2 separate regions of the Homo sapiens genome follow, and region 1 is linked to region 2. The links come from fine-mapping of genetic effects on gene expression. A gene starts in region 2. The other region holds a variant in brackets. All regions are shown on one strand. Distances are between the middles of the regions.

Region 1 (5,372 bases), 240 kb after region 2:
GCAGGATAATGAAGTGGCATACAGAGGTTTTATATGGGGCCCAGCTGGCATTCCAAGTGCTAAGAATATTCTGTGGCCTGCAGTGTCTGCCCTCACAGGGGCCCGTGGGGAGTAGTGGGGGAAGGAGACAGACCCAACCAATGGGGTTAGGAAAATATCCAGAGATGAGTAAATAACAAACTGCTCCCATCACAGCCACAGTCCCTGCAGCTAAAATTTTCCACATGCCCTTAGCTCCTGGTGGAGGCCTTTGGCAGTAGCTCTGTTTGTCTGGAACAGCTGCATCAAGCTTTCAAACAAATATGCAAACTTCTTCCCCTTTTTGGCTTAACCTGGCTTTGTAGGGGGTGAAGCACAAGGACTGACATTGAGATGAAAAAATTCAAGTCAAGCCCTTGGCAGAGCATATCCTGTTTGGGGTTAAAGGTGCCTCAAGTCTCCAGGAGATAAATATGCAACTGTCCTCCCCAACCTCCCCTTGCTTCAGTTCATTTACAGAGACCAAAATCCAGCCAAAGACCACAGGACTAAAGGAGTGGAGATTAGATGGCTCGAAGCCCAATTCTGAACACCTGTATGAAACCTCATGGCATGCAAAGGTCTTTACCTTTCCCAAAACAGAAGCCTGAGCTGTTGGAGGCGTGAGCACAGAGCAGTTTTTTAAAAGTTAGATTCAGTTGAGGTTCTCAAAGGGCTATTTGCAAAGGTGGAACACCCCACTTCCACGTGAATCACAAGTCACCACTCCTGAGAAGCTCAGATTGGTGAGGCCTCTGCCAGCCCTGCAATTCCACTCATTCTTCCCTCTTCTATCCTTAGGAGGCCACATGATGAGAGACATTTCCCCTACACTGCTAGCTCAGCTGTTGGGCTTGCCTTCATGCCTTTGTTCATTCATTCCTTCAACAAATATTTATTGAGGACTCTTTATGCATCCAGGACAGTTTTGTTTACTTGTACAGCCTTGTCTTCAAATGGGCATGGCACAGAATAGCAGCCAAATGTGGATCCAGGGCTAATCAGAAAAAGGGTCCAGGAATAATCAGCAGTGGCTGGGAAAAGTTAAGAATATAAATAAAGCAAAGAATGGGTTAAAAGTGTGTTCTGGCATATCTGTGCAGCCCAGAAAGTCAGACTGTATTTGTCATCATAAGCCAAGGATTAATATGAATCTTAAGATAGTCTTTTAACTATCAATTACATGTCTAACTATACTTTTGTGAAGGGCAGTGCTTAGAGGGCCTGACTGTACTATGGAGGTTGGAGGAACCCAGTAACAGACCACACAGTAACCAAGCACTGATTGATCTAAAGGAACTGAGGAATGCTCCCCAAGTCCTTCCCCCAGGGCTGAAGAGGGACAAGCAGACAGAATAATGTAGGAAATGTTCCCCTTTAATTTCATTCTTATACCCATCTTAGTATTCCACCATTTGCAAAAAAGAAAAAAAACTCAAAGATAGGCAAAGAGGGGAAATGGGAAAATGGAAAGGTTTAAAGTGGCAAGATGGTCTGAACCCTTTCTCCACACAAAGCATAGTTGGCACTGGTCCAGCTACTTCCGCACCCTGATGGAGACTGTAATTATCTTATTGAGTCTTCCCCACAGTTTTCCTACATCCCTTGTAATTCTGGAATGATGTAAAATGCTTGGTGGCCTTCGATCCCACACACACAGTAAAAAAGCTGGATTGCAAAAGAGATTTTGGACTTTTACCCCAGTTGGACATTATCAAAAGCTCTTCCCTAATCACCATCTTCAGTGGAGTGTCTGAGTTTGGTATCTAGGGGGTCAAGCAGACCTGGGCTGGAATGCCCACTCTGCTGCTTACTAGCTGGGAGACCTTGGTTCTCTTGGTTCCTCAAGCCTGTTTCTTCGGCTTTATATTGGAGCACATTAGTAGTACCTACCCTGCTGACATGTTATGGTGACATAATGAACTAACATATGTAATGTGCTTAACACAGAATATGAGCTGAGAGATGTTAGCAGTCATTGTCGTAGTTGTTCTTGTTGTTGTTACTGTTACCAAGCCACAGGGCTCTGACACTCCTGACACTCCTGTTTTCTCTTCTGTTAAACAGTCCTTTGCTCCCTGCTGAGCATGTCTTCAAAAGCTGGCTCTGTAACCGGAGCAGGAAGACCTAATACTTTAGGGAATCACCCACATCTGGCCTCCTGTTTACAGGACCTATAAAGCTTTGAGGCTAATACTGAACTGAAACAGCTGACAAAAATTCCATGACCCGCCCCCCGACTCCCCCGCACCCACCAAAGAAACCTCCCATTATGGGAAAAAAGAGAGCAGGGGAGATGAGGTCTGAGAAGAAATCAACGGAAGCCAGAAGAAGAACTGAAATGGGAAAACAGAAAAAAAGAAAAAGGGGAAAAAGAAAAAATGAACTCTTTCCTCTGGAATGAGGGCAAACCAACGAGGACATGATTTCATAAGGCAAACTTTCAATTGATTCATTCCCTTGTTCACCAAGTTGGACTGGTTTCCCAATACCTCACCTCCCCCACCCCTAGTCTGGGCCTGTGGGGAATGGAGGAGCTTCATCATCTGGCCCTCTGCTCCGCCCTTCAGTGCAGGGGGCCCTGTGCCTCTTCCCAAGAGGAGGAGGCGAGCTTGTGGCCTGAGTATTTACACAGGCCAAAGGGCTCCAGCACTAAAACCCAGCCCTGTCCTGGAAGCACACCCTCTCCTGGAAATAGGGAATTGTCTCTTGACTCCAAAACAGCTGGCTACCCTATTCCTGTGC[A/G]TGCATTAGGGCTCAGGGAGGCTGGAAGGAGGGCTTCCGGAAACTTCACTCCGGAAAGGACCAAGTTGTTTTCCAATTAGTTCGTATTCATGACCGATTTCCTGCCGTCTGGTGGAACATACTGTTTAGTCTCCCAGACAGCCGCAGACCTGCCTCCACTAGGGACTGGGCCACTTAACTGGATGGAGATAGATTAGGAATGTTCTCTAGCTCAGCAGCTCCCTGTTAAAGTTCCTTCTGATTAGAGAAACAGGAAATTTATCCGAAGGACTCTGCCTTCTCTGTTCTCCAAACCAGGGCAAAGTGCTCACAAAACTGCTTTCATTTCCTCTTGCCTTTTAAGTCATCCCTCTCGGCCTTGGCATGCCACCCCCAGCAATGGTAATCCGGTAATCCGATGACAAAAAGGCCTGTGCCCTGTGGGCTAGTGGAAGCCTGAGTAATTGTTTTTTTTTGAGGACCATAAGCAGGGCTGTCACTAGGGGGAAGACACAGGTTCTGTTTTTGCCTCCTATCAGGGACCACAGTCCATTCTCAGAGATTAGTCCCCAGTGTCTTACCAAGACTCATGTGTTGCTTCAAGGAAATGGGTCATTTATAGTCCAGATTGACAGGATTGATGTATGGTCAGGTTCAATTTTTTTCTTTTAGATGGAGTCTTCCAGTGCTCGCAGTAACTGGCCACCACAACTATGAGCCTGCCCTCTATGCAACTGAGGTGCTGAGATTCACCCACAGTAGTTCTGCTGCCTTACAATGCAGGATTTCCCCCACTAAATATCCACCTGGCTCCCCACCCATGGAATGCCATGTCCTAAGGAAGTGACAAAGTTGGATGAGAGGGGGAAGGTTGGGAAGGAATTGAGTGAGAAATCAAGACACCATTTTGATATTGTCTTCCTTATTCTAGGTTCTGGCTACTATCCGGATGAAAGCTACAATGAAGTATATGCAGAGGAGGTCCCACAGGCTCCTGCCCTGGACTACCGAGGTAATCTACCCTGCTTCTCAAGCCCAGAAAATCTCTTTTCTGGCCTCAGACCTAGGCCCTTCCCTGAAGCATCCCCATCAGGCTTGGCTCACATGTGTCAAAACTGTAGCACAGGGAATCAGGGGCTGTGATTTCTCATCATGAACTTGGTTACTGACTTACTGTGTGACCTCACCTCTCCAGCCTGAAGGTTCTCCATGTATTATTAATCATTAAGTATTGACTAGTTACTCAATGCCTAATCCTGTGCAAGGTAAGCCTGTGGGTAATACAAGGTCTCAGATAGGGTTTTGTCCCCATCATGTAGCTTATATTCTGTTGGGGGTGATGGGGGGGTATAAAGTTAGCACATGTAGGGCAAGTAAGTGTGAAGCTATGTCATAGCAGTAAATGCAATAGGGTTTAAGAAAAAGAAGTCAGGAAAAGGGTCATGAAAGATGACATTTAGGCTAAGCTTAGAATGATAGGTGGGATTTTGAGAACCAGAAAGGGGAGGGGAGAGCATTCAGCAAAGCAGATGGCTAAAAATACGGAAGTAAGAACAAACCTGGTAGAGGAGGGAGCTAAGAAGAAACCAGCCTGATTGGAGGAAATGGAATATGGAGGGAGTAGTATCAAAGAAGGTTAAATATAGGCCAAGTGCAGTGGCTCATGCTTGTAAACCCAGCATTTTGGGAGGCCGAGATAGGTGGATCACTTGAGGTCAGGAGTTCGAGACCAGCCTGGCGAATATGGTGAAACCTCATCTCCAACAAAACTACAAAAAATTAGCCAGGCATGGTGGCATGTGCCTATAATCCCAGCTACTCAGGTGGCTGAAGCAGGAGAATCACTTGAACCTGGGAGGTGGAGGTTGCAGTGAGCCGAGAGCTGAGATGGCACCACTGCTCTCCAGCCTGGGTGACAAAGCAAGGCTCTGTCTCAAAAAAAAAAAAAAAAAAAAGTTAAATATAAAGAGTGAGACCAAATTAGGAAAGACTCCATGATCTAGGGACAATACTAATGAGAAGCATGAAAATTATCTGTGATGAATGCTGCATAGTGAGTAATTCCTGCATTAAAAGGGAAGTTAGGCCAGGTGGTATCTAATATCCCTTCTATTTCTGATTCTTTGTTTCTTTGCTTTGCAAGCCATGTGGAAGAGTTTAGCTGTTGTACTAGGATCTATAGGGAGCCCATCACATGTTTTTGCACAGAGGCATGACACAGTAAATTGTCATTTTAGAACATTAACCTGATTATTCTATGCAGAAATAGGGGTTCAGTGGTTAAGTCTGAGTCAGGGAGACTCTCCAGGAACCAGCTACAGTAATGTTGGCTAGAGATGACTGATGGTGGTGGCAAAGAAATGGAGGGTACAGATGAACCCCATAAATGTTTCAAAGAAAGAGATGACAAGACTTAGTACAGACTTGATGTACCAAGAGGCTAAGAAACAAACTGATGTCTGAAAGCACTCAGTCTGTACACCTGGAAGAAATAAGACCCCTCTCAGAAAGACAATGTCAAAAAAGAAAACTGGTTTGGTAAAGATGCCCTACAGGCGGCGGAAGGATGAAGTTGTGTGAGTCATCAGCTTAGATAGATGGGTTGTCTGAGGGAGCAGAAGGCCAGGGTC
Region 2 (5,346 bases):
GGCACAGCAGATCACGGTCAATCTTCTGCTTGGTGACCAGCAGGCCAGAGCTGGGATTGATGTCCACTAGGTGTGGAGCCGAGTTGGACACCACGCGAAAGGCTGAAGCCTGCCGGGGGTCCAGCGCGAAGCCCGCCTCTCGCGCGTCTTTGGCCACGTTGGCAATCACCGTCCCGGCGCGCTGCTCCTCTTCTACCGAGTACTTGAGATTAATGAGGGCGGCAGCCTGCGTCCACAGTATGGCCAGCAGCAGCAGCACCGGCAGCAGGAGCGACTCCATGGCTGCACGGGGCTCTGCCTGGCCTCGCCTCTCCACACCCCTCCGAGACCGACGCCGTCGGCGCTCCAGCTTCCCGCCGGCTCGGGCCGCCTGTTGCGCGCGCCCCGTGGCCCCGGAGGCCGCGGGAGAAGTCCCGCCCAGGGCGGCCCGGCGGCGCGCGGGGGACACCCGCGGCGGCTCCAATGCTGAGGTTGCGGCGGACGCGGCGGGGGCTCGCGGGGGCCCCGGGGGCTCCGAGGGGCCAAGGGAGCGCCGCGCGGCCCCGAGCCCCCTCCCTCCAGCCCGGCTACTCAGTTTTACCCCTTCAAAGTTAGCCGGGCGCGACTGTCGGCAGCCGCCCAGGGCTGCGGGTCGGGCGGCGTCTGCGCGGCCTGGAGGACGCACCGCTGAGTCCGGACAGTACTTGAGGCGAAGGTAAAGAGGGCGGAGGAGGCGCAGCCTTTCAGGCACTGCCCGGCCCGCCGCGGTGCACCGGCACTGAGGCTGGCGAACTCGCTGTCTGTGCACCTGGCATGCGCAAAGACCTCCCCCCAGCGCTCCCAGTTCACTGCGGAGAGAGTACCCGCTTGGAATGCGCCCTCCGGGGTCTGGGGGGGCCACACTGGCCTCTTCGAGGCCTGTTCGGGAGAAAGGGGGTGTCGCAGACGGGAGTCAGTTACTGGCAAGCGCCGCGGGCACCCGGTTATAGGGTTGAGTCGGATGGCGGTCCCGGGGCCAGCAGAGGAAGGGGGAGGGGAGAGAGGCTGCCAGAGCTTGAGCGCGCTCCCTCGCGCTAAGGCTGGCTTCGAAGGGCTTGGGGGCGCGTCTGTCCAGGATCCGAGGTGGGAGCGGAGTTCCCCCCACAGAGCAGTTGAGGGTCTGCGGGCGTTTTCGTCTAGGAAATCAAAGTTAACAACGCAGTCCGACCCTCCACGTCAAGTTTGTGGAAACGGGGAGATGGCAATTTGTCCAAGAAAATCAAAGCCCCGGTCTTTCTAATGGCCGGGGGTGGCGGGGAATGGGGAAGAGGGAAGGGGAGGCAACAACAGTACCGGCCAGGAGAGGCGGGGCCGCCGCCGTGGGTACCGGGTGCTTCTCTTCTCTCCGTTTGGGCTGGGGTGTCGCTCCAAGGTCCGCCGCCGCCGCCGCCGCCGCCGCCGCCGCGGGAGGAAGCCCTCCTAGCTCAGTTGCACGTCGCTGGGGTCCGCCTCAGCAGCTGCCACAGTCGACGATTTTGTCGCCGCCGAAGTTTACTTGCAGGAGCGTCTTGATTTCATCTTCCCGGAGAGGCGCTGGCCGCGCTGCGTTGGGCTCCCTTCCTCCCGGGCGCTCGCGCACTCGGGAGGTCTGTCTCGCTTTCTCTGTCTGTCTCGGGCTGTGTGTGAATGTGTGAGAGAGAGAGGAAGAGTGAGTGTGTGGTGTGGGGAGTGTGAGTGTGGAGTATGAGCAAGCAGGAGGCAATGGGTTTGGGGTAGGAGGTTTAGGATTTCGGATGAAATCGCTCAGCCGGAATGCTGCGGAGCGCAACGCGCCAAGGGCCAGCGCCGGGCTAGGGACGCGGGTGCCAGTGCCTCCCGGGCAAGCCAGGCATGGTGCACGGGAGCTGTGCTGCCGTCTGTGCCCGCTCGTCCGTCTCCGCGCTGCGCCAGCCGCCGCCGCTACTGCTGCTGCTGCTCCTCCGGATGCCGCAAACTACTGGCCGCGGAGTCTGGAGAAAGCCGGAGAAAGCTCAAGCTGCCGAGCCCGGCTACGCCAGGCCCTGGCCAATCAGCGCGCCGCCAGCGGGCTCCAGTCTTGGGGCGGGGCCAAGCGGAGGCGGGGGGTAGCGGGGGGGCGGGGCCAAGCGGAAACTTCACACCGGCGGGACCAAGTGGTACCCCGGCCCATGGAGCCCTGGCGGGATTCATGGGAGGACGGACAGACAGGCCAGGCAGGCCAGGCAGGAGCAATAGGGCAGGAATGAGCAGGGAGGCGGTGTGCTGGCGCTGCGGCTGAGCCTCGCCGGGAACTGTGCGCTTCTCATGTTTGCAGAGATTTCAGGAAAGATGAGGATGATATGATTGTCTTATCGTGTTTACCTCCCTTACATATCTTCATATCTTGAATATAATATATACATATATATACACATATATATATATATACACACATATATATATCCCTCTATTTCTCCTTGTCTCTTCACCCTAAAAAATCGTCTGTTTTTGTTTTCCTCTCTTCTCATTCTCTGGTAGTGGAAGGAAGAAAGGGAAGGAGAAAGCGCCCCTGAGGTGGTCATTCATCCAGCTCTTAGCCGGTGTGTCTTCACATCAGGCCAGAGCCACGGCCGCCACCCCCCCGGACCGTCACCCCCATCCTTCCACCCCGGGCAGACGCCGCACTACTCTCTGCGTGCCGCACTCCCAGCAGGGCCCCTGGATCGGTTCGCTCTTGTCTGTTGCTTGTTAATCAAATGGGATATGTGGCACAGAGAATGAGCTACGGAGGGGGCCGGACACATTTCATTGCCCCTCACCCCACCCTGTTGGAGAATTTAGCTCCCTATAAATAAACTGTACGTTTGAGAAGAGCCGGTGGAGCGGACGCCGCCGCGCCGCGCCAAGCCAGCAGAGCTCAAAGCCGGGCAGGAGCTCTGGGGCGGGCACGCCATACATGTCCGCTTAGGTCGCCGACAGCTGGGAGCCGGCGCCGATGTGCAGGGCGCCCCAGCCTTCCCGCGGGGTCTCGGTCCCAGGGGGCTGCCAGCTCCACTTGGGCGGCGGTGGTGGCTGCGGCATGTGCCAGTACTGGGAAGCGGGAGGCCGGCGTGGCCAGGGCTGACATCAAGCTCATCCTGCCTTCTGCACTGAAGGCTCCCTGGGGGCAGCGGGGCATTCCTCCCCACCCGGGCTCTGAGGCTTTTAATTAAGGTCGCCAGCGGCAAAAAAATCAAAAACGTGCCCGTTAAACAAGTTTTTTTTTCTCTTAGAATGTGGGGAAGCTGCTTCTGAATTCACAATTCTTGGAAGAGTAAAAATGTCTTCTGAGTGAGTCGTCTCGGATATTTGGGAGTGGGATAAGCAGACTCATAATTAGCCCAGCGACATTGGCTCGAGCCTGTGGGCTTCACATGAGCGTCATTTTTGCCCTCTAAAAAGCGTTAAACAAGAAAAGGAAACCGGCATTTGGACACATAATGGGTTTTCTCAAAACTGCCATCTTCTTGTGGAGAGCAACCCAGCTGCTTTTTAAAATATTTTTCCTTCCAAGAAGAGCTACTTTAGCAGCCTTTACCTTGGCGGTGGGAGAGGGGAAAGGCGGCTTCCTCTTACAGAAAGAAATTATTTCGCGAGTGAGATTGCGATCCCCTGAATATGTAGCCGAGGCCAAAGGGAGAGCGTAGGGAGCCTGATCCGCTTTCCGCGTGGGGGTCGTTTCACTGTTTCACGTTAGGATGTGATTCGGCCCAGAACAACAGGGAGAAAACCGATGCTTCTGCAATGAGTATCATTTAATTTTGGTCATTTAGAGCTGCGGGTGGACACCAGAGTGGTGGCTCAAGGGAGCCCGGTGGCCCGACCGGTTTTCTCCAGACACCGTTGGAGAAATGGGCAAGTAGTAGAGAATGACAACATGGCAGGCAGCGGTGGGCGCACCTCGCGGGCTCCGCGAAAGGAAGGGTTCCATTTGATTTATCACAGTTATTTACCTTTGATGTCAGAGCATGGGAATGAAGTGCATCTTGGTCTAATTAAAAAGGCCTAAAAAGGCATTTGAAATGGGTTTGCTATCTGATCACGGGATGTGAATTCGGCGTTTGGCAGCTTTCTAAAATATTGCTTGGACTATTTAAACAGAACAATTAGCAGCATGCTAAAATGTTTGCATGCTATGCTTAGAAGCTTTTAGCTGTAAACTTTAAGGCGATCTGTTCCCCCTTTAAGTTAAAAAAGGATGATGCTGCTTCCTTGTGGCGAAGGCTGTCAGGAACCCACTGATCAATAAAAGTAAACTGGCGCCTCCACGGCTTGATTGAGCGGGAGCAAAGAGTCTGAGAAGTAGTCTCGGCCATTAACAATCCCCCAGGTAACGAGAAATGGAAGAATTACTCAGGTAAAATGATTAACATTGTCGTAGCATCTGAAAAGATGCACACAACAAGATAAGAAGACTGCAGACCTCTTACCTTAGGGAGTGCTAATAGAATGTCTATATTCTGCTGTCTTTTAAAGATAAATAGGAGAATTCAATTCATGTACAATGTCATTACCTTCATAATTGCAATCACAATGTAAAGACATGTTCTGCATTTGCAAAGACAAACCCTCTTTGCTAAGGCGATGCCACCGTGTTCCCTGCTTCCTGCTCGCTGTTCACACTCCAGGCACCCCTCTTTTCCAAGGAGAGCATCCAAGTACTTCCAGCTACCAAACCACTTTTACACAAGCCAGGTGCTAAGGGAGGCAGGGGCGTGTGCCTATGCTTTCCTTCTTTCCTATTATCTCCTCCCCACCCCTAATCTCAAAGTGACAGTTACACAGCCTTCCCCATCCCCACACACAAAATAGCTCTTCCATCCCCCAGTCTATTTCTACAGATAATCCTAACAACAGCCTTTGCCCTCAGAATTTCTTTTTTTCTAATAGGCACACTCGATCATTATACTCCAAGAATGCCATTGACTAAATGAGTAGCCCAAAACACTTTCATGATCAGGAATTTATTAACTAACTGAATAAAATCGTTCTGCATGTAGATAATAAAAACAAGAAAGTTCTCTCCGTTTTAGCTTCCCTTTACTTCAATCCTGAAGGGAGCCCCGCCTCCTCAGCCTCTTTAGAGACACAAGAGGGACATCTAGTGACCATCCTCAGTATTTTTTAATCCAACAGCTACTAAGAAATACTAATACTAATGGTGCTATGCCGCCTACGGCTGCTCTCCAGGTCAAAGCAGCTCCACTGAGGCCAGAATCAAAATTGGCAAAGAGAATTTTTTTTGTCTTTAAAATGTCATCCATGCCACTAAAATCATGCTGAATGGCAATAAAAGAGGACCAAAATGGGAGAAATCTTACTTTTAGATCAAACCAGTATGTGAAGCTAATT

Direction of the effects. Alleles are on the strand shown, and positions count from the first base shown. SD is a standard deviation of normalised expression in the study named.
As copies of G replace A in region 1, the expression in visceral fat of the gene that starts at base 1,956 in region 2 goes up (small effect, 0.22 SD a copy in GTEx).

What was found. PIP is the estimated chance that this variant, and not a neighbour inherited with it, causes the effect.
Region 1: its variant is fine-mapped to the expression of PCDH19 in visceral fat (GTEx, PIP above 0.99). The same link has a PIP of 0.9 or more in atrial appendage, breast, esophagus muscle, gastroesophageal junction, ileum and left ventricle.

What each region holds. Positions count from the first base shown.
Region 1 is chrX:100,647,112-100,652,483 of GRCh38, forward strand. It overlaps SRPX2 (sushi repeat containing protein X-linked 2), which reads left to right. Exons shown (of 11, transcript NM_014467.3): 3 at 3,674-3,754. Among named protein-coding and RNA genes, the nearest start is that of SRPX2, 5.6 kb to the left of the region's middle. RefSeq lists an enhancer at 81-375 and a silencer at 2,741-3,035. The variant A/G (reference allele first, on the strand shown) is at 2,764.
Region 2 is chrX:100,408,318-100,413,663 of GRCh38, forward strand. It overlaps PCDH19 (protocadherin 19), which reads right to left and starts at 1,956. Exons shown (of 6, transcript NM_001184880.2): 1 at 1-1,956. The coding sequence starts at 280.